Linked DNA regions of Homo sapiens. The protein of the gene in region 3 purifies or fractionates together with the protein of the main gene of each other region. This does not show direct contact. Each region holds a gene or a part of one and is shown on either strand. Other genes may lie near its edges.

Region 1 (7,022 bases), about 19 Mb from region 3:
GTCAAGCTGGGTGAACTCACTTCTAATTTATGATCGTTATCCTATTACTTATAAATTTACCATCTCTATTTTCTGTTCTAGAGGGTTCTTTGCCCCAAACTTTTCAAACTTCCTCTTTACTTTCGTCTCAATTTAGCAACCAAAGGCTTCCATGTCTTCCCATTAACACATGCGTGCCCATGTATTCTTGTTTCTTACACAGGAAAACGGCAGGTTCCTAACAAAAGGTCAACATTTTCACCTGTGGGCAAAACCCTACCCTCTCTGAGAAAGAAAACAGTTCCAGCAGTCACTTTCCTGCCATCAACTGTTATCCTGGATTGCATTTCAGCCTATAAATGTTATTTCTCAACAAAAAACCTCCCTTTTTGACCCCCCATTTTCCCCTTACTACTATTAGTCTCATTTTCAGCAACACTTGTACTATACTCTGTCTTAAGATTTCCCTTTCAGTTTGCTCTTGAACCCACACCAGTCAGAATTTCACACCATTCCATGCATTAGGGGCAGCATGTTTCATTTACTCTCATTTGAACAAAAGATTCCTGCACAGTTTGGAAAGTCTAGCATTCATTGATAACTTCCAAGCAATTTTATGTTACTTCTGCAACTATCTGGCAGGACTGAGCATTCTAAACATTGAAACACGTAGACATTAAGTCTAACTTAAACCAAAAGGCAAAAACCTCTGCACTGGAGGGGTAACAATGGACAAAGATACCTTTCTAAGAGACAAATCAACCGCAAGCTTGTTTGTCAATATAAAGACAAACAATTTACTCAACGGTGAACTGAAGCACTGAATACAAACACAAAATTATGCTATTTTTAAGGACATCAATGAAACTAGGCAAAACATTTAAGCTCTTCAGTGTAACAAAAGGTAAACCAAAGATTCTGCTGCTGGAACCCATGGACTTAACAGATGGACTGCCATGAGAGGCTATTTTAGACCTACTCTGAAAAATAAAAACCCATCTATCTTCAACATCCAGCATCTGGCTAACACAATCTCCTGGTAGAAAACTGAATCAGAGATCTTCAATTGTGGTAGTGATCAGTTAGGACCTCAGCTCTTTTAACTGAAAACTCAGGACAAGACATATTAATACAAAAAATATGATGACATCAGCTGCTCTTGCAAAACTCTCAATGTACATGTGCTGATAAATACATGTAATACAACCTCGACTAGATTCCCTAGTTCCTAAAACTTCACTAAGTGCTCCAACTTTGGTAAAATTTAAAAACCTATATACAGAAACCCCCTCTTATAGACTCACAGTATATTTTGGATATGTTGGATACTTCTAGAATAATAAACTTGACACTTAAAAATTTGGGGATTTAAAAGTTGCGATTTAAGTGATCAGTTAAGATGCGTTATTACTGTATTGGTTTGATTCTTCAGAGGTACCTGTCAGCTTTTGGGGATCACCTATGAAAACTCAATGCTTTGATATCAAACCCTTAGAGAAACAACTATTACACCATCCTATCCTACCACCGTGGGACTGGGAACACTGCCTCAAAGTATACTACGGCATGGACTAAAATATGCTTGGTTCATGGAATTTTTCCTCGATTACTCTAATAATGACATCTATTAATAAGATTTCTAATACCCACTCAAGTAGATAGTTGTCTAACGACAGACTGGATTTCCCCCCGCAGAATGTAAATTCTTGGTGGAGCAATTTCATTTTGCAACTTTGAGCTGACAACTCCCAACTCCAAAAAAAAGGGGGTACATATCTAAACTGAGAAGTGTTTAGTGGAAGATAATGTATGCCATTTCAAGTGATAACACTGTTGATTCTTCACTAATGCCATGGTACAATTCAGATACTCCTAATGCTTTCCTTTCTCCCTACCAAGGAGGCAGGTTTAAAAGGTGTGGTTTAAAATATTATCTTACCTGTTCAAGGACAGAAAATTTGAAATTCCAAACCCTCATCATTTTCTAAAAAAATTTATGTATAAAGCAGACCTCATCTATACAAGCTGTTTTTAATAGGTTCACCTCTTAGGCATCTGATGAAAGAAAACGTGAAGTGTTAACAGAAAAATGAGTCTGCAGGAGAGGCATGATATTGCTGAGTCCTAACACGGGTTTGAGGAAATTTTAATAGAAACATGTTTACGTGGACCATACCTGCGGAATCGTGGTCTATATCCCCGATACATATTCTGCCTCACTGGTCTACCTTGTTCTCCTGCACCCTGGTTGTCAGCACCCTGAAAAAGACAATGGAAATTAAGCCTACTGGGTCAGTAATATAATAAAAAAACCCAACCAGATAAATCCAAGAGTTAAAAAACAAACAAAACAGACCATCTAGTAATTGTGACTACATTATAAATTAATCCTTTTGGTTCTTACTAGGAATCCAAGTTGCTTTCCATATAATTAACAGCTCTAAACAGTCCTACCAGAACTTATCACATTGCTGTTGTTGATGGTGAAACTTACCTCCATCACTTCTCCCTGCACAGGAGGGTTGGAATACTGTGGTCGACGCCCATAGGGTCTCCGCATGTAGTAAGGTGGGAACCTTCGCCTGCGGTAGGGCCGGCGTTGTTGGGCCTGGCCTTCGGGAGCACTCTCCGATCCCTCGTTCTTTTCCCCACTCTCACTATTCTGGTAATTTTGCTGGTAATTGCGTGGAGGACCCCTACGACGTGGATAGCGTCTATAATGGTTACGGTCTGCTGCATATTTACTGCCTTGAACTGGAACACCACCAGGACCTGTAACATTTGCTGCCTCCGCACCCTACAAAAGCCATTACATATTGATAGTGACAAAGGAAATCAGAACACTTTCAACACTTTCAAAAGGAAATCAGAACATTTTCAAACAAAGCAAAAAACAACAAAGTTAAGGAAAAAAAAGGGGGGGGGGGCGCAACTGCGTGACCAGGGGTGCACAGAAATGACTAAATATCAGTTCCTCACTGTTCTGAAGAGATTGCCCTCTAACTGCAGCCAGAACATTAGGCTTGATGCACCTGTGTTCATGAGGTCACCTGAACACATCCATCCACATTAGAGCCACCATCCTAATGGATGAGACCTCCAAAATATTTCCATACTGAAGTCAAACCTTTACACAAAAAGCATCCTCACCTTTTCTCCTTCAACAACATCAAACTCCACAGTCTCTCCATCTCCTACACTGCGAAGGTACTTCCTGGGGTTATTCTTCTTTATGGCAGTCTAGTAATATCACATTCCAAAAATAGATTAACAGGGGAGAATAATGTGCTTTTTCATTTAAAATGTACCAGAGTCAATATTATTTTAGCTTGGATATACACTTAAGATTTGCTTTAAATAAGACCAAACCATCAATAAATTTAGGAAAGCGGGGACCACACTATCCCCAACTTCAACAAAAACACTCCAATCATACAAGGCCCCAGCATTGTACCACTATTTACAAAACTAAAACAAGTAATTTAACACTCAAGACAGACACATCATTTTAAAAACTGCTTTTTGCAAAAGCATTATATATAACTTTTAACAAATGAGGATATCCATCTATCCCCTGAGGACTGCACTTAATAGGAGAAGGTGGCCCCACACTGCGTCAGTTTAGATGACAGGCGAGTTTGGTTTTGCATGCTTCAAAGCTGACCAAACCAACTTTGCCCCTGTGTTACCGTATCAAACTCAATTACAAATGTCAACCAAAATCCCTTCCAATCTGATAATACATCAGTGGAAATGCAATTCATGTGTATTAACTATGTCATTCTTTATATGATCTGACTGCATGGAATTGTTAGTTATCACCTCCCCAGAATTCAATAAATCTTGTATTAGAGACTTGTTGCTTCTACTTTCTCCAGACTGTTAAGAGAAGGGAGGAAGAGTAACATCTCACGTTTCTATGAAATTTTTTTGCAACATTCTTTCACTTACTATCTATTCAATCTCATTATGAGACAGGACATGTGAAAGTATTGTTAATCCCATTACACAGATAATGTAACAGGCTTTAAAGTTAGGTGACTTGCCCAAGGTCACACAGTTAGTAAGGAGACTTTCTAAACCCAGGTATTGGGTCTCCAAATCCCATGTTCACTCCAAATCTCAGCTATATCCATTACAGGATCACTCATGCATTTCCATTGCAGAGGAGACAGGACAATCAACGAATCTGAGGCCAATTAAGTGAAGCTGCCCAGAACTGCAGTCTCCCTGATACACCACTAAGACCTGAGCAGCCAAAGTCCCAAGAAACAACTACATGTTGAAACCACTTCCAAAAAAATGAAAGCATATTGGTGGCACCTTGTGAATCAGTACAACTGGGTGAGTTGAGTCAAATAATTGATCTCATCTGTCATCTAAACTGTCACATAGTTTTCATACCTTTCAGATATAGCCAACTATCAATTACCTGCAGTCATAGGGGATAGCAGAATTATGGATAATTAAAATCCCAACTCTTTATTTTTATCAACATCTCCACCCCTGCCCCAACCCCAACCCTTAAGGGTTGCCAACAGGCAACAAGACCGAGAAACTTTGCTGTCTCTTGTTCCTAAGTCTACACATTCTTTTGAACATGCAGAAGGGGAGTAAGGAACAGTTGAGCTGTGTTCTTCCAAACAAGAATACCAATTTTATAAAACATCTACTTTAAAACAACATTTTGTCTGAAGTAGTCCTGTATTTATTTACATTTAGAATTTAAATGATTCCATAATTACATTTGACCCTGAACTACCTGATTGGGTTTGGGTGTACTAGAAATTGATATAGCTTCCTCCTTGTCATCAAATACTGTGTAGGACACTTCAGTGAGCTACAAAGCACCAACCTATGACAGCCCTTCCTATGAAACATGCTGCCATAAAAGCTAGTATCTAATTAAATGTGAGTATGGATATTAACTTTTAGGTCTTTTGATTTCTGGATTATAGTACAAAAAAGTAGTTATGGTCTCTAATTTTAATACAAGTTGACAATATTTCAAAAGCCTTAGTGAGAAAACTGATAGCACAAACATATTTTTTCCTACTCATTTCGTATCTGTGAGGATAAGTACATTCAATGTAGCCTACAGCATATCTAAATTTGAAGTATTAACATACACTTGGCAGTGGTTTACATTAGTAATAATCTTAATTCCTGAATGTGCAAACATTTTCCCTAAATGATACTTAGGGAGAAAGTTCACTATGCAGTACTCATCAGTACTCATCCTATGTTAACAGTTTTCTCTTCCCAAATCACTGGAAGCCAATCTAAAAATTATTTAATGAGCAGCTGCCAACCTTGTCACACTTCCCCCCACTTAACCTTAAACTAGTGAAATTTTTTCATTTTCCAAGCCAGCCAAAACTCTCCAAAGGTTTAAAAAAAAAAAAAACCCAATACCCATTCAAAGTGATTTAAAGTAAGCAGAAGGCTCTTTATGCTACTTTTCAAGTACTCACTTCAATTACTATGTTTTGCAGGTCTGTCTTATTTACCCTTGATTATGGAGATTTGTCCCTACAGGTACACCTAAAAGCCTTTGAAAACTTCTTGCCAAAGTTTCTGTGTATTTATAGCAACATTATTTGTTCAACTTTAGAATCATGGAATAATCTGTTCATCTGAAATTAGGTATAAATATTTAATGCAGTGAGTTTGACTCAACATTTGAGAAAGCCACAGCTGTTGACAAAATTCCAATTTGAAATGTCTAGGATAATTAAGTCAACTCTAACACATTTCCACGTATACATTTTTAAGCATGCTACTACTCCTGTCGTAAGTAAATAAACTGGTGGTTGGACTTAACCTTTTATAAGGAACAAAAGCTGAGAACATATCTAACCTTTTCTTCTTACAATCCTTGAATCAGAAGTGCAAATATCTACACAAGCACTCACCTGGTGTACAAATACATCTTCCTTGGTGTCATTCCTGCAAGACAGAACCAAGTTGAACAAGTTAGAAAATGAAATAAATCTCATGTTGTCAAAGATTAATTTTCCCAGAGACTCTCTGGCTGCCAATTAGGTACCAGGAAATTTGGCAAAAATCAAAAAACACAAGCCACCATGCTCTCTGCTTTCAAGACTTCAGCAGTTGCAAACAGTTGTAGCCTCATTACCCGTAAGATAGGCAAAAAAAAAAAAAAGTCTAAGAAATTAAAGTGTGACCTACTGAGCCATAATTAAGAGGGTAGCAATGACTAGCAAAATATATTCTGCCCCTCCTTATCCTATTAAACATTAACTGTTCTAGCACACCCTCCTCTTACCTCTAGAGCATGGTTACCAACAGAAGTAGTAGTTACATTCTCACCTTATCCTGCATCTCCCAACTACCAACTTTCCTTGAGATCATAAAAATGAGAACCCCCCTCCCCACCAACAGAATGTATAACGCAAAGAGTGAAACCTAATGGGAACTGTGACCTTTGGGTGATAAGGTATGTTTGAATGTAAGAAAAGCCCAGTTATAAAAGCTACTCCACAAGTCCAGACAAGGACTGATGAAGGTTTAGACCACGGAGCCATGTATAAAAAGACATTTGAGATCTCTTTTTGAGGCAAAATGAGAAACTTTGTGGATGACTGGATGTCAGAAGCGAGGGGGTAGAGAATAATCTCACTTTTTAGCCTGGATATTGGGATTAAGGTGATAACACGAGGAGCAAGAATCACCACTGGAGAAGGAAACGGATTTCCAGGCCTGCAGTGGCCTGCCTCACCCTCTTTACTCCGTCAGGTCAGAGTGAGAAAAAGCTCAGTAGTAGCTCTAGCGTTTAATGACAAAGGGAACAAAGGTTACAATGAACTGGACAAACTGGCTTACTGACTGTTAGCTTCTTGCTGAACTGGGGGCAACATATGCATCAAAGGATCCACATAAAATTAACTTTAAATCTGACCTGTAAATTATAGCTTGGATTATTATAAGAACATTTTTAATTGATGGGAACAGGATAATTAAAAAAACAGAACAGGTAAACTGTAAAAGCGACTTAAGGCAAGTGACTGAAAACTGACCTT
Region 2 (7,760 bases), about 130 Mb from region 3:
ACTCACCACTTCAAATGTCCCTGGAGCCACAATCAGATTATCAATCACATTGTTTATTTTTGTCACCAGAGAAAGGATAGATGCCTGAAAAACAGTATGAAACAATACTTGAAAATGAAAAATTATAAGCAATTTCTCAGAATTTGAATATTTTCTCCTAATCCCTTCCATACAAGCTGACTCAATACTGACATAGGGCTTTAAAAACACTTCATTCTGGCCTTGAATATATGGGAAGAGAACAACTCTTTGTCCCCAGTAAAAATAAGAATGCATATGTAATTTGTTTATATATCCACCTGGCTATCTCCACCCACAATGAGAAATAAGGAGAACAATTAAACCCTTTGTGGATTTCAGGCTCTGTTAACACCATTCTTAACCTTACCAACAGTTACTCTTTACCAATACTTTTAACTGCTTTAGAGACATTTCTGGAAGACAGCCAAAAGAACATACCTGTTCAGCAGAATTGGGAGCCAGGTCCTGATTCCTCTTCAGCAAGGCCTCACTGAAGGAAGTTTCATCAGGTGCTGGCTTGACCCGGGGAAAGGCCATTTCACACTAAACCAGAAGTAAACAACTACATTCTATTTGCCGAAGATAATATACAGGAGAGATTGTTTTTTCTATTACTACGACAGAAAAAGGTTAAAAACAGAAAATTCTACACTTGTTTTTACTGCTTAATTTGTTCAATTAGCTGGGCGTGGTGGCTCACACCTGTAATCCCAGCTACTTGGGAGGCTGAGGTGATAGCTGGGCGTGGTGGCTCACACCTGTAATCCCAGCTACTTGGGAGGCTGAGGTGAGAGAATCCCTTGAACACAGGAAGCGAGGTTGCAGTGAGCCAAGATCGCGCCATTGCAACTCCAGCCTGGGCAACAGAGTGAGACCCTGCCTCAAAAAAAAAAATTTATTCAAAGGCCAGGCACAGTGGGTCACGCACACCTGTAATCCCAGCACCGTGGGAGGCTGAGGTGGGCAGATCACTTGAGGTCAGGAGTTCAAGATCAGCCTGGGCAACATGGTGAAACCCCGTCTCTACTAAACAGACATACAAAAATTAGCTGGGCATGGTGGCAGGTGCCTGTAATCCCAACTACTCAGGAGGCTGAGGCAGGAGAATCGTTTGAACCCTGGAGGCAGAGGTCCTGATTCCTCTGCCTCCCAGGTTCAGTGCAGTGAGCCAAGATTGCACCACTGCACTCCAGCCTGGGTGACAGAGTGAGACTGTCTCAAAAAAAATAAAAAGTTCAAACAAGGATAAAAGCTGGAATAGCCATAATTTAAGCTATCACTATCTTTATAGTAACAGATATACCATAAATACAATTACTTGTTCAGAACAAAGATTATAATCATGTTTAATGCCAACAGTAGCCAAGGAATTATTCTCCCCACCATGCTTACACTGTTTCTGTATGTAAAGCAACACACAGTTGACTCAAAACCCCAAATCTTTTCACAAATCACTTTCCCTCCCTATTTCAACCATCTTTTTTTTTTTGTAGTGGTGCCATCTTGGTTCACTGCAACCTCCGCGTCCCGGGTTCAAGCAATTCTCCTGCTTCAGCCTCCCAAGTAGCTGGGATTAGACACATGCCCAGCCAACTTTTTTATTTTTAGTAGAGACGGGGTTTCACCATATTGGCCAGGCTAGTCTCAAACTCCTGACCTTCAGGTAATCCATCTGCCTCGGCCTCCCAAAGTGCTGAGATTACAGGCGTGAGGCACTGTGTCTGCCCTCTTCAACCACCATCTAACTTCATTAACTGGGAGATACTGGGCTCCATTTCAACAGTGACCAGAAAATGTGTATCATTAACCCAAGGTACTCACCAAATAGAAGTCAAATGGGATATGTGGTACAAAGGGCCTGAACCTAAAACATGAAAAACAGCCAAATTATTCCCTAGGTAGGAATCAAGCGAGATGTAAATAACACGCCAACAATTTTGAAAACATGTCAGTCCTCAGAATGAGTGACAAAGTCTCCGGGGAGGGAAAGAATCATTCTTAGCATAGTGGGGCCAAATTCATTTAACAGGAGTGCAGGAAAAGACCACAGTTGGCTCTCGCAAAACCAAGTGACATTAGTCTACTCTAAAACTCCTATTTAGATGACAAGCAGAAACTAACAACCAAGTGCAGAGATGCTAAAAGCTGGTACTCACCCTCCTCCTGGGCCTCCTCTGGAACCAAAGCGCCCACCACGACCACGGCCTCTGTCACCCCTAGAAATGCAGATTTTATTTTGACCTCATTGAAGGAATACCCACCGGCCATATCATCTTAGGTTGGCTACTTTCATCCCTCGGAACCTCCCAACGGTAGGCAAGAGACCCCACTCACACTTACACTTGTCCCCATTCCAAATGGTGCCCAGTTACACCCCCATAACCTCCTCTAAGTTAATCCAACCCCCATCAAGTAATGATGGGGCTCAGTGAGCCCTACACTTAATAACCCATAATCCTGGGCCACACGAATCCTAATACTTCGGAGGCTAAAGATTGCTCATTTCTTCACTAAGGTACACATTTATCGGGCGTGTCCTAATGTCAAGGCCTTCGCACTGAGGATGAATGCGGCTCGCTCCAGCATTCTCAGCCCGGATGACGGGGGCGGGGGAAAGGTGGGGAGCTCCTCCAGGGGCTTGAGGACACCCCCTCATCGCAACCCTTCAGAGACAAAGGTGTCGAACCCCCCTCCCCACTCCTGGGCCCGAACCCCATCCCGGGCCCAAGTTTCCCCGCCTCTACCGGCCTCCATCTCTCCCACTATCCTAGACCAGGAGTTCTCAGGTTTTTGGCCAGCCCCCGGATACATGGCCCTTTCTGATACTCCGACTTCTTTCGGCCCACGTTCACAAAGTTTTCCGTCGAATACCTGAAACCTTTCGACCGCTTCGACCCACTTACCTCATGGCGCCTTAAAACACGAACAATGGAGGCCGCACCAACCGCCCCTTCCTCTGAGTAGCAGACAACTGAAGAGGCGTCTTGCCGGCGTGTCCCAATAAAACCCGGTGCGATTGGCTCCCGCCTTACCCCATCGCTTATGCCTATTGGCTTACTTTGTCAAACCGGGCTTATGAACCAATAAAAAACGCCTACTGTGTCAGGAACTAGCCAATAAGAACTGGTTCTATAGTAATGACGAATTTTTGATCAGACATTAGGTGGCACTAAAGAAGTCAGGACAACGACTACGTAGTGTTCTATAACAATCATGAGAAATTTTAGTTCTAGATAGCAGAGTGGCGCAGCGGAAGCGTGCTGGGCCCATAACCCAGAGGTCGATGGATCGAAACCATCCTCTGCTATCGGAGTTTTTTCATTGCCCTGTACGGCATACGTAATCTACGTTTCTTTAGTGAAGGAAAATATCTTGCCAATTTTCCTACCTCAAAAATGCAACCAATATCAGCTATTTTTGCCACTAGCAGTTGAAGTTGATGGGGAAAAGGGAGTTTAGGCAACTATGAACACTGCACGTCTACAAACTCGAAGCAGGAGAAACAGGTTTTAGATAGGAGAGGAGTATATTGATTGAATTAGTGTGGAAAACATGGTTTTCCATGTCCATGGAAACAGGTGATCCACCCGCCTCAGCTTCCGAAAGTGCTGGGATTACCGGCGTGAGCCACAGCGCCCAGCTTGGTTACATAAATTCTTTAGTGGTGATTTGTGAGATTTTGGTGCACTCATCACCCGAGCAGTATACACTGAACCCAACTTGTAGACTTTTATCCCTCACCTACCTCCCTTCCATAAGTACTTTTTCGATATTTAATTTACTACAGCAGAACGTAAACATCTTAAGTCTAAACGTATTCTGGCCACGTAACCACCATCCAGATTAAAATAAATATTATTAATTTTTAAAAAACAAGCAAACAAAAAGCGGACCGAGTGCGGTGGCTTGTGGCCACCCAGCACTGTGGGAGGCCGAGACGGGTGGATCACCCGAGGTCAGGAGTTCGAGATCAGCCTGGCCAACATGGTGAAACTCCGTCTCTACTAAAAATACAAAAATTAGCCGGCGTGCTGGCGGGCGCCTGTAATTCCAGTTACTCAGGAGGCTGAGGCAGGAGAATCTCTTGAATCCGGGAGGCGGAGGTTGCAGTGAGCTGAGATGGCGCCACTGCACCCCAGCCTGGGCGATAGAGGGAGACTCCGTTTAAAAAAAAAAAAATCTTACTTGAGGTTTGTTGAGCTTCTTGAATCAATGGCTTCAGGTTTGTCGTCCATTTATTAAATTTATCAGCTATTATCTCTTCAAGTATTAGTTTTACCTATTATTTCCCTCGTTCCTGAACTCCAAATAAAGACGGGTTAGACTTTTCCCCCAGTAATCTCTTTGTCTCTTACCCTCTCTTCTATTATTTCATTTTATTTAGACACAGGGTCTCACTCTGTTGCCCAGGCTGGAGTGCAGTGGTGCACCATCATAGCTCACTGCAGCCTCAACCTCCTGGCCTCAAGAGACTCTCCCATTTCGGCCTCCCTAGTAGTTGGGACTACTCAAAGGCACAGGCCACACCACTCCGAGCTAATTTTATTTTTTTTTTTGAGATGGAGTCTCCCAGGCTGCAGTGCAGTGGCGCTATTTCAGCTCACTGCAACCTCCGCCTCCCCGGTTCAAGCGATTCTCCTGCCTCAGCCTCCCGAGTAGCTGGGACTACAGGCGCCCGCCACCACGCCCAGCTAATTTTTTTTTTTTTGTATTTTTAGTAGAGACGGGGTTTCGCGGTGTTAGCGAGGATGGTCACCATCTCTTGATCTAGTGATCTGCCCGCCTCGGCCTCCCAAAGTGCTGGGATTACAGACGTGAGCCACCATGCCCGGCCCTGCCCAGCTAATTTTTGTATTTTTAGTAGACATGGGGTTTCACCATGTTGGCCAGACTGGTCTCAAACTCCTGACCTCAGGTGATCCTCCTGCCTCTGTCTCCTAAAGTGCTGGGATTACAGGTGTGAGCCACCTCCTTTGGCCCCGGGCTTACTTATTTATTTATTTTTGTAGAGATGGGGTACTTTATATGTTGTCAAGGCTAGTCTTTGTTTTGTTTTTGTTTTTGTTTTTGTTTTTGTTTTTGTTTTTGTTTTTTTTGAGACAGAGTTTCGCTCTTGTTGCCCAGGCTGGAGTGCAATGCGTGATCTTGGCTCACAAACTCTGCCTCCCAGGTCCAAGTGATTCTCCTGCCTCAGCCTCCCGAGTAGCTGGGATTACAGGCATGCACCACCATGCCTGGATAATTTTGTATTTTTAGTAGAGACAGGGTTTCTCCATGTTGCTCAAGCTAGTTTCGAACTCCCAACCTCAGGTGATCCACCCACCTCGGCCTCCCAAAGTGCTGGGATTACAGGCATGAGCCACTGCAAAGGCCTTTTACCCTCTCTTTTTATGCTTTTCATTCCTTTTTATCCATTCTTCATTTTAGGTAGTTTCTGCTGTCCTTTCTTCCAATTTATTACTTGCTCCTCAGTTTAGTCTAACATAGTATTAAATCTATCATTTGGTTCTTAATTTTGGTCTTTTAATATTTTGGGTCTGTATTATTATTATTTTTGAGACAGGGTCTCACTCCTGTTGCCCAGGCTGGAGTTCAGTGGCATAAACACAGCTCACTGAAGCCTCAACCTCTTGGGCTCAAGCGATCCTCCTGTGTCAACCTCCAGAGTAGCTCGGACTATAGGCATATGTCACCACACCCAACTAATTTTTTAATTTTTGGTAGAGATAAGGTCTCACTATGTTGCCTAAGCTGGTCTCCAACTCCTGGGCTCTAGTGATCCTCACCTCAGCCTCCCAAAGTTCTGGGATTACAGATGTGAGGCACCAAGCAGGACCTTAGATTTTCTATTTATTCTACTCCCAGGTTGCCCCTAGGAGTGCAGCCTTTTGAGATCCTAGCCCAAAACACGAAGGTGGTTTACCAAGGTTATCACCTTTGGGGACATTTGGACTCCTTTTTTTTTTTTTTTTTTTGAGAGTGAGTTTCCCCCTATTGCCCAGGCTGGAGTGCAGTGGCGCAATCTCGGCTCACTACAACCTCTGCCTCCTGGGTTCAAGTGATTCTCCTGCCTCAGCCTCCCGAGTAGCTGGGCTTACAGGCATGCACCACCACGCCTGGCTAATGTTTGTATTTTTAGTAGAGATGGGGGGTCTCACCATCTTGTGCAGGCTGGACTTGAACTCCTGATCTCATGATCCATCCATCTCAGCCTCCCAAAGTGCTGGGGTTACAGGCATGAGCGACCGTGCCTGGCCCTTTTTCTTTTTTTTAATTTAAAAAAATTGAAATGGGGTCTCGCTCTGTTGCCCAGGCTGGTCTGAAACTCCTAAGCTCAAGCCATCCTCCCGCCTTGGCCTCCTAAAGTGCTGGGATTACAGGTGTGAGCCACCACACCCGGCCTGGACTTCACCGGCCCCACACAACCTATTTTCTGCCACTAATTCCAAATCAGCAAATGACCCCAGGGTAAAATCAGCCCTACTGCTGGGCTTACTTCTCTACTTTCCTGTACTTTCATGCTGTCACACCAATAATTTCTCACTATCTTATTTTTTTAATTATTATTATTTTTTGAGATGAAGTTTTGCTCGAAATGGAGTGAAATGGTACGATCTCAGCTCATTGCAACCTCCGCCTCCTGTGTTCAAGCAATTCTGCCTCCGCCTCCCAAGTAGCTGGGATTACAGGCACCTGCCACCACGCCCGGCTAATTTTTGTATTTTTAGTAGAGACGGGGTTTTGCCACGTTGGCCAGGCTGGTCTCGAACTCCTGACCTTAGGTGATCCACCTGCCTTGGCCTCCCAACGTGCTAGGACTATAGGCGTAAGCCACTGTGCCTGGCCTCACTATCTTATTAGTTCTTTTATTATTATTTATTTATTTATTTATTTATTGTTTTTTTTGAGACAGGGTCTTGCTCTGTTGCCCAGGCTGGAGTGCAGTGGTGTGATCTCGGCTCACTGCAATCTCTGCTTCTGGGTTCAAGTGATTCTTGTGCCTCAGCCTCCCGAGTAGCTGGGATTACAGGTGTGCACCACCAAGCCCGGCTATTTTTTTTTTTTTTTTTTTGAGACAGAGTTTCACTCTTGCTGCCCAGGCTGGAGTGCAGTGGTGGGATCTCGGCTCACTGCAACCTCAACCCCCTGGGTTCAAGCAATTCTGCCTCAGCCTCCCGAGTAGCTGGGATTACAGGCACCTGCCACCACGCTTGGCTAATTTTTTTTTTTTTTTGAAGAGACGGAGTCTTGCTCTGTCACCCAGGCTGGAGTGCAGTGGCGCGATCTCGGCTCACTGCAAGCTCCGCCTCCCAGGTTCGAGCCATTCTCCTGCCTCAGCCTCCTGAATAGCTGGGGCTACAGGCGCCCGCCACTGTGCCCAGCTAATTTTTTGTATTTTTAGTAGAGACAGGGTTTCACCATGTTAGCCAGGATGGTCTCAATCTCCTGACCTTGTGATCCGCCCATCTCGGCCTCCCAAAATGCTGGGATTACAGGCTTGAGCCACTGCGCCCGGCCCAGTTCTTTTATTTTTATTTTTATTTATTTATTGTTTTTTGAAACAGGGTCTTGCTCTGCTGTCCAGGCTGGAATGCAGGTGCGCAATCTTGGCTCACTGAAACCTCTGCCTCCTGGGTTCAAGTGATTCTTGTGCCTCAGCCTCCCTAGTACCTGGGATTACAGGCATGCACCACCAAGCCCGGCCAATTTTTTTTTTTTCTTTGAGACAGAGTTTCACT
Region 3 (7,022 bases):
TTTTATACCTTGTAATACTTCCAAGGCATCATGCTATCGAATCTTACAAAACAATACAGAGATTAAAAATAACTTGCCTAAGATCACAAACTCAGTAATAACCTGGCTTTGAAATATGGAGTCTTATCTGTTACATACTATTACCACTTTACAGAGATTAAATAGAAAGAGTTCAGCAAAAGCTGACAACCAATATTGTTTCAGTTTTTAAAGTTACTTTGTGTTTGGCAAGTTTCAAAAACAAAATTCAAATATCAAGAACCAAAATTTCAAAATTCCTACCTTAACAGCTGCTCCTCTGTCTTCAAAATGAACAAATGCATAATCTTTCAACTTCTTTACTCTTTCGAGTTTTCCAAATTCAGAAAATGACTTTTCCAATATTTCTTCTGTCACCGTAGTAGCCAAGTTTCTCACAAACAAAACTTTTACCTAGTAAGCAACAAATAAACAAAACCGTCATTGGCTACTTAATTTTACCTGAAAAGTGTTTCTTCCTGTCTTCATAGCATAGCTTTTCTCCTCTAAAACATTAAGTGCTAAAAGTGTTGTTACAGGTAGTAAGAGAAATTGCTAGGAAAATGACACTGATATCAGTCACCAATTTACAAAAATTATTGGTTCCTGCCTTCTCCTATGTTGTCATTAAAGCACCTAACACTGAGTAGAACCTTCAAGGAACCAACACATAATTATTATTACCAAGTTAATCAACAAAAAGTCCCTTTCAAAACAAGTTTTTCTGTTTCTTTCCTCTAAAACTGAGTAACTTTCAAAAGTTCATATGAAAAAATAAATAAGCAAGAATAACCAGGAAAAAAAAGAGTGAAATTTAGAGGCTGGCCCTACCAAATATAAACAAACTATAATGCTTAAATCATTAAATCAGGTAGTGTTAAATTAGAAAAAAAGGAGAAAAGCTGGTCCATGCCTTACACTATACACAAGGATAAACTCCAAATAGATTGAAAATTTAAATAATAAAAGGGTGGAGGGAGGACTGTGAAATTTTAGAACAAGAATGATTCCTTTATATAACACTGGAGTGGGGATGACCTTATGACTTAAAATCTAGGAGCCATAAGAATGTTATACTCAACTACTAAAAATAAATGACTTCTATATGGCAAAAAAATACTATAAGCAAAGACAATAAATATGGATGAAAAATTTGCAACATGTATCACAAACAGCTAATCTCTCTTTTATATCAGAGCACCAGAAAATAACAAAAAGCTCAACAACTGAATAGAAAAATAGGCAAAATTCCTGAATACATGGTTCATACACAGAAACACATATGGCTCTTAAAATATATTTAAAGTTCAAACCATTCATAGTAAGAGAAGCAAATCATTAATCATTAATGGCACTGAGACATTTGTTATCAGGCTGGCAAAATTCAAAAGTTTGATTATACACTATTTTGTCAAGAATGAGGAAAATAATTCTCTTGTATTTTGCTGGTAGGAATGTAAAATAGTGTATCTCCTACAGAAAGGAATATGGCAGTATCTTAACAATTACAGATATATCTACCCTTTGGCCCACAATTCTACCCCTAAGAATCTATCCTACAGATATATCTCCACTTGTATCAACTAACATAAGCTTATTCCTTCCAGCACTGTAAGAGCAAAAGATTAGAAACAATATCCAGCTGGTTAAATACACTATAGTACCTCCACAGAATAGACTACTATGTAGTCATAAAAAATGAAGAAGAGGGCTGGGCGCGGTGGCTCACGCCTGTAATCCCAGCACTTTGGGAGGCCGAGGTGGGCAGATCACCTGAGGTTGGGAGTTCAAGACCAGCCTGGCCAGCATGGTGAAACCCTGTCTCTACTAAAAATACAAAAATTAGCCGGGCGTGGTAGGAGGCACCTATAACCCCAGCTACTCGGGAAGCTGAGGCAGGAGAATCACTTGAACCCGGGAGGCAGAGGCTGCAGTGAGCCAAGATTACACCACTGCACTCCAGCCTGGGTGACAGAGCAAGGCTCCGTCTCAAAAAAAAAAAAAAAAAAAAAAAAAACAAAAACCCAAAAAATGAAGAGGAGCTCTATGAGTTGTAGGATAGGACAACTTACAGTCAATGTGATAAGCAAGTACTGTGCCATAGTTTAGTTGGCAGTGTTTTTTAACTATTTAGTAGTACATATAGTAATGATGTATTTCCTCAGAGCTGATGAAACAGGATGGTGAATAAACAAAAGGTAGATCAGTGGATATGGTAGGCTACCAACATTACTACCACTCATCTAAGAATTAAGGAAGTATATCCATATTTGCCGAAGGAAATACTAAAAGGAAACCAGCAACTATTAAAACTGGATGCCTTATAGGAGACAAAGGGGATTTGGTAGACACAGGGATAGGGGTAGAAAGGAAATTTCTTTGTCTATACTTTTCTATATAACTTTTGAACTAAGAAAACATAGTACCTATCCAAATAAAAAACTAACATATTGAACAAATTGTTGCTTCAGATAAAGGGCTATCTAATAAGAAGATACTAATTTAAGGAGGAAAAAAACTAACATTTTCCACAAACGCTCCATCCCCTTTATTATTCTCAATTTGTCATACTAAGGTCCAGCCTCTATGTTACACAGACTCCCACTGGTTTAGTTGCTTTTTAAAAAAAATTCAACATGGACTTTTCTATGATGAAACGATAACATACTATGTGAAAATTACTTACTGAAATTGTGTTTAAAATGTTCAACAGGAAAAAGGGTCCCTTTAAGAGACATATATTTAGGCTTTTAGGTTATGGTACATTGTAAAACTGACCCAACTTGGCAAAAAAAATCTTCAGTGAATTGTAAATTGATAGTGTGAATAACAGAAGCTTTACTCAAATGGATAAACTTTTCTTTTCAATTAGGAAACAATAAAGGAGCTGGATGGGGTTGCAAGCACCCGGGAGGCTGAAGCAGGAGGGACGCTTAAGCCCAGGAGTTCAAGGCTGCAGTGTGCTATGACTGCACATGTGGGCAGCTACTGCACTCCAGCCTGGGCAACATGAGACCCCATCTTTTAAAAAAAAGAAACAATAAAGGGCTCCATAATATTTAATCCTAAGTTTATAGAGACCTCCTTTTCATTCTGAAACCTGTTTTAGATCTAGGAAAAAGGAGTTACCAGAATGAAATCTTGAAGTTTTCTAACCCTAAAAAAAGATTAGGATGAACTTCCATCTGAGCAGTTACTAAAGGTTATGTGAGAAGTGGCTGGTAAGCAAATTACAAGCTATACTTTTGGTTTTCATGGGATTTTATTCCTCTTTTATAATATTTTATTCCTCTATTATAATACATCTATAATACTATTTTAAAATATTTTTACAGAAAAAGTAATACAGGCTATACTTAGTTACTACAGGTAGATTCAAAGTTGTGGTGGATCTTAGAGATTGATCCAGGCTCAATAAAATAGATGACATTCATGTTCAGTAGTTTACCCAAAGTCATAGTTGTATTAGGAGAAGAAACAATAGGAATTAAAATCAAGCTAGTAAAAAATCAAAATAAAAACTCAGAGCTATTTAAATTCTCTATCCCTTTCCTAGACACCCATCTACTCAAGGAATATGAGATAAAAGATACTGAGTAGCACTTCTGAGAGCCTCTCTGGTTCATTCTGAATAGAACTTATCTGATTAACCCAAAGATGTCACTGCCAACCCAGACTTTATACAAGTATAAACCAGAGTTCTCCTCCAAACTACTTAGAACGAGGGTTTGCCTCCTCAAATTCTGGAATAAAAACCTTGACTTCTGACTTATCAAGAAGAATCCAACCATTAACTCATGGCCATTCAGAGTTGCTGCCTCCCTGTGAAGGGAAGAGACAACTAAAATGCTCAAGAGCTCATTGCAAGCAGCAGAAATGCAACTCTGAGGCCGGGCGCAGTGGCTCACACCTGTAACCCCAGCACTTTGGGAGGCCGAGGCGGGCGGTTCACAGGGTCAGGAGATGGACACCACCCTGGCTAACATGGTGAAACCCCGTCTCTACTAAAAATACAAAAAATTAGCCAGCTGTGGTGGCGGGCACCTGTAGTCCCAGCTACTTGGGAGGCTGAGGCAGGAGAATGGCGTGAACCCAGGAGGCAGAGCTTGCCGTGAGTGGAGATCGCGCCACTGCACTCCAGCCTGGGACAAAGCAAGACTCCATCTCAAAAAAAAAGAAATGCAACTCTGATGTGTCCCAGGAGTCGCCCAAAGGAAAACTTAAGAACCAGTACTCAAGGCACCACTATTAAGATCCTGGCAACGCAAGTACAGGAATCAGGAGGGAATTGAGGGCCCTTTACAGGACTTGCCATGCATATTTTGCCACTAACAAATAAGAGCAAACATGACAATCTTTTGCCTTTCTTCATGGGGACAATACACTAAGGGAATCTGATCATTTAAAAACAAGAGGCGGGGCACGGTGGCTCATGCCTTAATCCCAGCACTTTGGGAGGCCAAGGCGGGTAGATCATGAGCTTAGGAGTTCGAGACCAGCCTGCAATATGGTGAAATGCTGTCTCTACTAAAAATACAAAATTTAGCCGGGCATGGTGGCAGGCGCCTGTAGTCCCAGCTACTTGGGAGGCTGAGGAAGGAGAATCGCTTGAACCTGGGAGGTGGAGGTTGCAGTGAGCCGAGATCGTACCACTGCACTCCAGCCTGGGCAACACAGCAAGACTCTGTCTCAAAAAATAATAATAATAAATAAAATATTTTTAAAAATAAAAACTACAAAAAAAGCTTAAAAAAAGAAAAATTAGCTATAAATCTAAATAAAACATAATTCATGGCCAAGTAATAAAGTCATAATATAGTCAATGAAGATTATAACTTATAATCTCCAAAACATTACTTCTCTCTTTACTCAGGACTTTTAAAAAAAAAAAAAACCTCTATCCCTCACAGTGCCTAGCACTAAACAAACACCCAGTGTGTATGGGACTACTTAATTGAAGGAATTTCATTTCAGTTCCTTTTGCACATTTAATCTGCAGGAAAAGGGATTGTTAATGGAAATTCCTGGATACCAAGACAGGCTGTTAACTTTAGTGTTAAAGCCGCTCCTTGCCAAACAGTTGAAGTCTAAAGCTACAATTTCTATTTATCATAAAACTCAAAATATTTGAGCTTTATTCTGAGTACAAAATTTAAATGATGACCCTATGCCCATTCCAAGCAACTGTATTTACCTTAGCCATGACTTCTGGATCTGGTTCTTCCACAGGGTCAGCCCATTCAACTGTAACTACATTTCCCCACACTTTTACTTTTCCACTCATCAGCCGGCGTCTGGCTTGTGCTGCTGACTTGTGATCCTCATATTCAAGGAAGCAGAACCCCCGATTCTTCTTTTTGTCATCGGGTTGATGATAGAGAATAACGTCCACCAAACCCTCTGTTAAACCAACAGCCAGATATATAAGCCAAAAGCATCCACCACACATCTAGCGATTAGGCAGACCTAAATCCACTTGACGATGAGCAAAATATAAGTGAAGCAGCCTCAACATGAGTCACTAATTTTGTAGACAATTAGATCAACATAATTAGATATGGGGTTTGGGACAGTATTTGATGTTCCTTTTTAATTTTAGGGGTTCTGAAGGTACAGCCATATACAACAAATCTACTATATTCTGACATTTAACATGCTACAATGTTTTAGAGCGTTTGATATAACATGACTTTATTAAAGCACTAACAAGGATCTTAAAAACAAAATTAGTAATATAAACCCAAGAGAACTAACTTTTGACAACTAATCATGGCCAAAAATCTTCCTTGAAGCTAACTTAAAAGTTACTATTTTTACCAAGAATGGAAGTGATCACTAAATATTAGTGTTCCTCTGGTCTTAGTCCTTTGCCCTTATCTCTCCGTATGTGTTCTTTCTAAATAATGTCAGCTAGCCCTACTTTTAAATGTTACCTATACCCTTATAAATACTTAGATTTTTTTCCTACCCCAGACTTCTCTAAGCTCTAGATGTGCCTACGTTCTTACCCGATGTATCCTCTTTGATGTCTTAGACATTGCAAATTTAACTTTTCCAAAACTGAACCACCATGGCCAAAATCTGCCTTCCCTAGACTTCCTATCTAATAAACAGTGCCATCCACCTGGTTCTGAAGCCAGAAATTGGTTAGCCATTCTTGATTTCTTCCTTCATCTCTCCTATCCAATTCCAAACTCATTTACTTCTTTCTATCTCCACTGCTATTACCCTAGTCTAATCCTGTATCTGTACTAGTATGACAGCTTCAACTAATTTATCAGCTTCCACTCACACCCCTTCTCTCCAAGCCCCTATCCACAGAGCGCTAGGAATAATATCCCATAAACAAGAAATAGGTGTTATTTCCTGCTTAAAACCTTTAAATACCTTCTCATTATATATACAATAAAAACCCAACTCCTTACATGGCCTACAGAAGCCCTGCCTACTTCATTTCATACAACTCTACTCCTAATTCTACCTTTTAATAATACTGGCCTCCTCAGTTACTGTAATATACTGACTTCTTTCTTGCCTTGGAACCTTGGCACGTGTTGCTGTCTTGGAATGCACTTCCTTTTGCTCTTTGTATGCTACAACCTCTTCATCCTTCAGGTGCTGGTTGACATGTCATCTTATCAGAAAAGTCTTCCAAAACCATGGAAACAGGGATAGTAGCTATTCTCTAGCTAAATATCCTGTATTTCCTGCTTCAGTGTCTTATCACAATGTCTAAATATTCCTTTAATTTTTATTTTTTATATTCTTGGTCTTATCTCCTTTCTCAGGATATAGGATCTATGAAAGCAGAGAATATGTCTCTTAGCCATCAGTGTATCCCAGGCACATAGCACAATGCCAGCACTTAACAGGAACTTTAATAAACACCTGCTGAAAGAATGAATAAATGATCATGAAGCCAGAAGGAGCTATAGATAATAAAGTGATGAGGTCAAAGAACTGTGCCAGCAGTTGACAACACAATACTTGACAACACAATATAG

Evidence for each region. The genes of interacting proteins can lie anywhere in the genome.
Region 1: the proteins of HNRNPR (region 3) and YBX1 purify together in Homo sapiens (co-immunoprecipitation; 5 studies listed by BioGRID and IntAct, with this or other methods). This does not show direct contact.
Region 2: the proteins of HNRNPR (region 3) and ILF2 purify together in Homo sapiens (affinity purification with mass spectrometry; 5 studies listed by BioGRID and IntAct, with this or other methods). This does not show direct contact.

The regions. Positions count from the first base shown.
Region 1 is NC_000001.11:42,692,396-42,699,417, reverse strand, and holds part of YBX1 (Y-box-binding protein 1), read right to left. Parts: intron 5,929-7,022; coding exon 5,895-5,928; intron 3,220-5,894; coding exon 3,130-3,219; intron 2,777-3,129; coding exon 2,474-2,776; intron 2,239-2,473; coding exon 2,156-2,238; intron 1-2,155. UniProt on the Homo sapiens protein: DNA- and RNA-binding protein involved in various processes, such as translational repression, RNA stabilization, mRNA splicing, DNA repair and transcription regulation.
Region 2 is NC_000001.11:153,667,994-153,675,753, forward strand, and holds the start of ILF2 (interleukin enhancer-binding factor 2), read right to left. Parts: upstream 3,001-7,760; 5' UTR 2,930-3,000; coding exon 2,925-2,929; intron 2,238-2,924; coding exon 2,178-2,237; intron 1,886-2,177; coding exon 1,843-1,885; intron 584-1,842; exon of another isoform or gene 565-583; coding exon 460-564; intron 85-459; coding exon 7-84; intron 1-6. UniProt on the Homo sapiens protein: Chromatin-interacting protein that forms a stable heterodimer with interleukin enhancer-binding factor 3/ILF3 and plays a role in several biological processes including transcription, innate immunity or cell growth.
Region 3 is NC_000001.11:23,313,271-23,320,292, forward strand, and holds part of HNRNPR (heterogeneous nuclear ribonucleoprotein R), read right to left. Parts: intron 5,428-7,022; coding exon of another isoform or gene 5,419-5,427; coding exon 5,213-5,418; intron 433-5,212; coding exon 283-432; intron 1-282. UniProt on the Homo sapiens protein: Component of ribonucleosomes, which are complexes of at least 20 other different heterogeneous nuclear ribonucleoproteins (hnRNP). hnRNP play an important role in processing of precursor mRNA in the nucleus.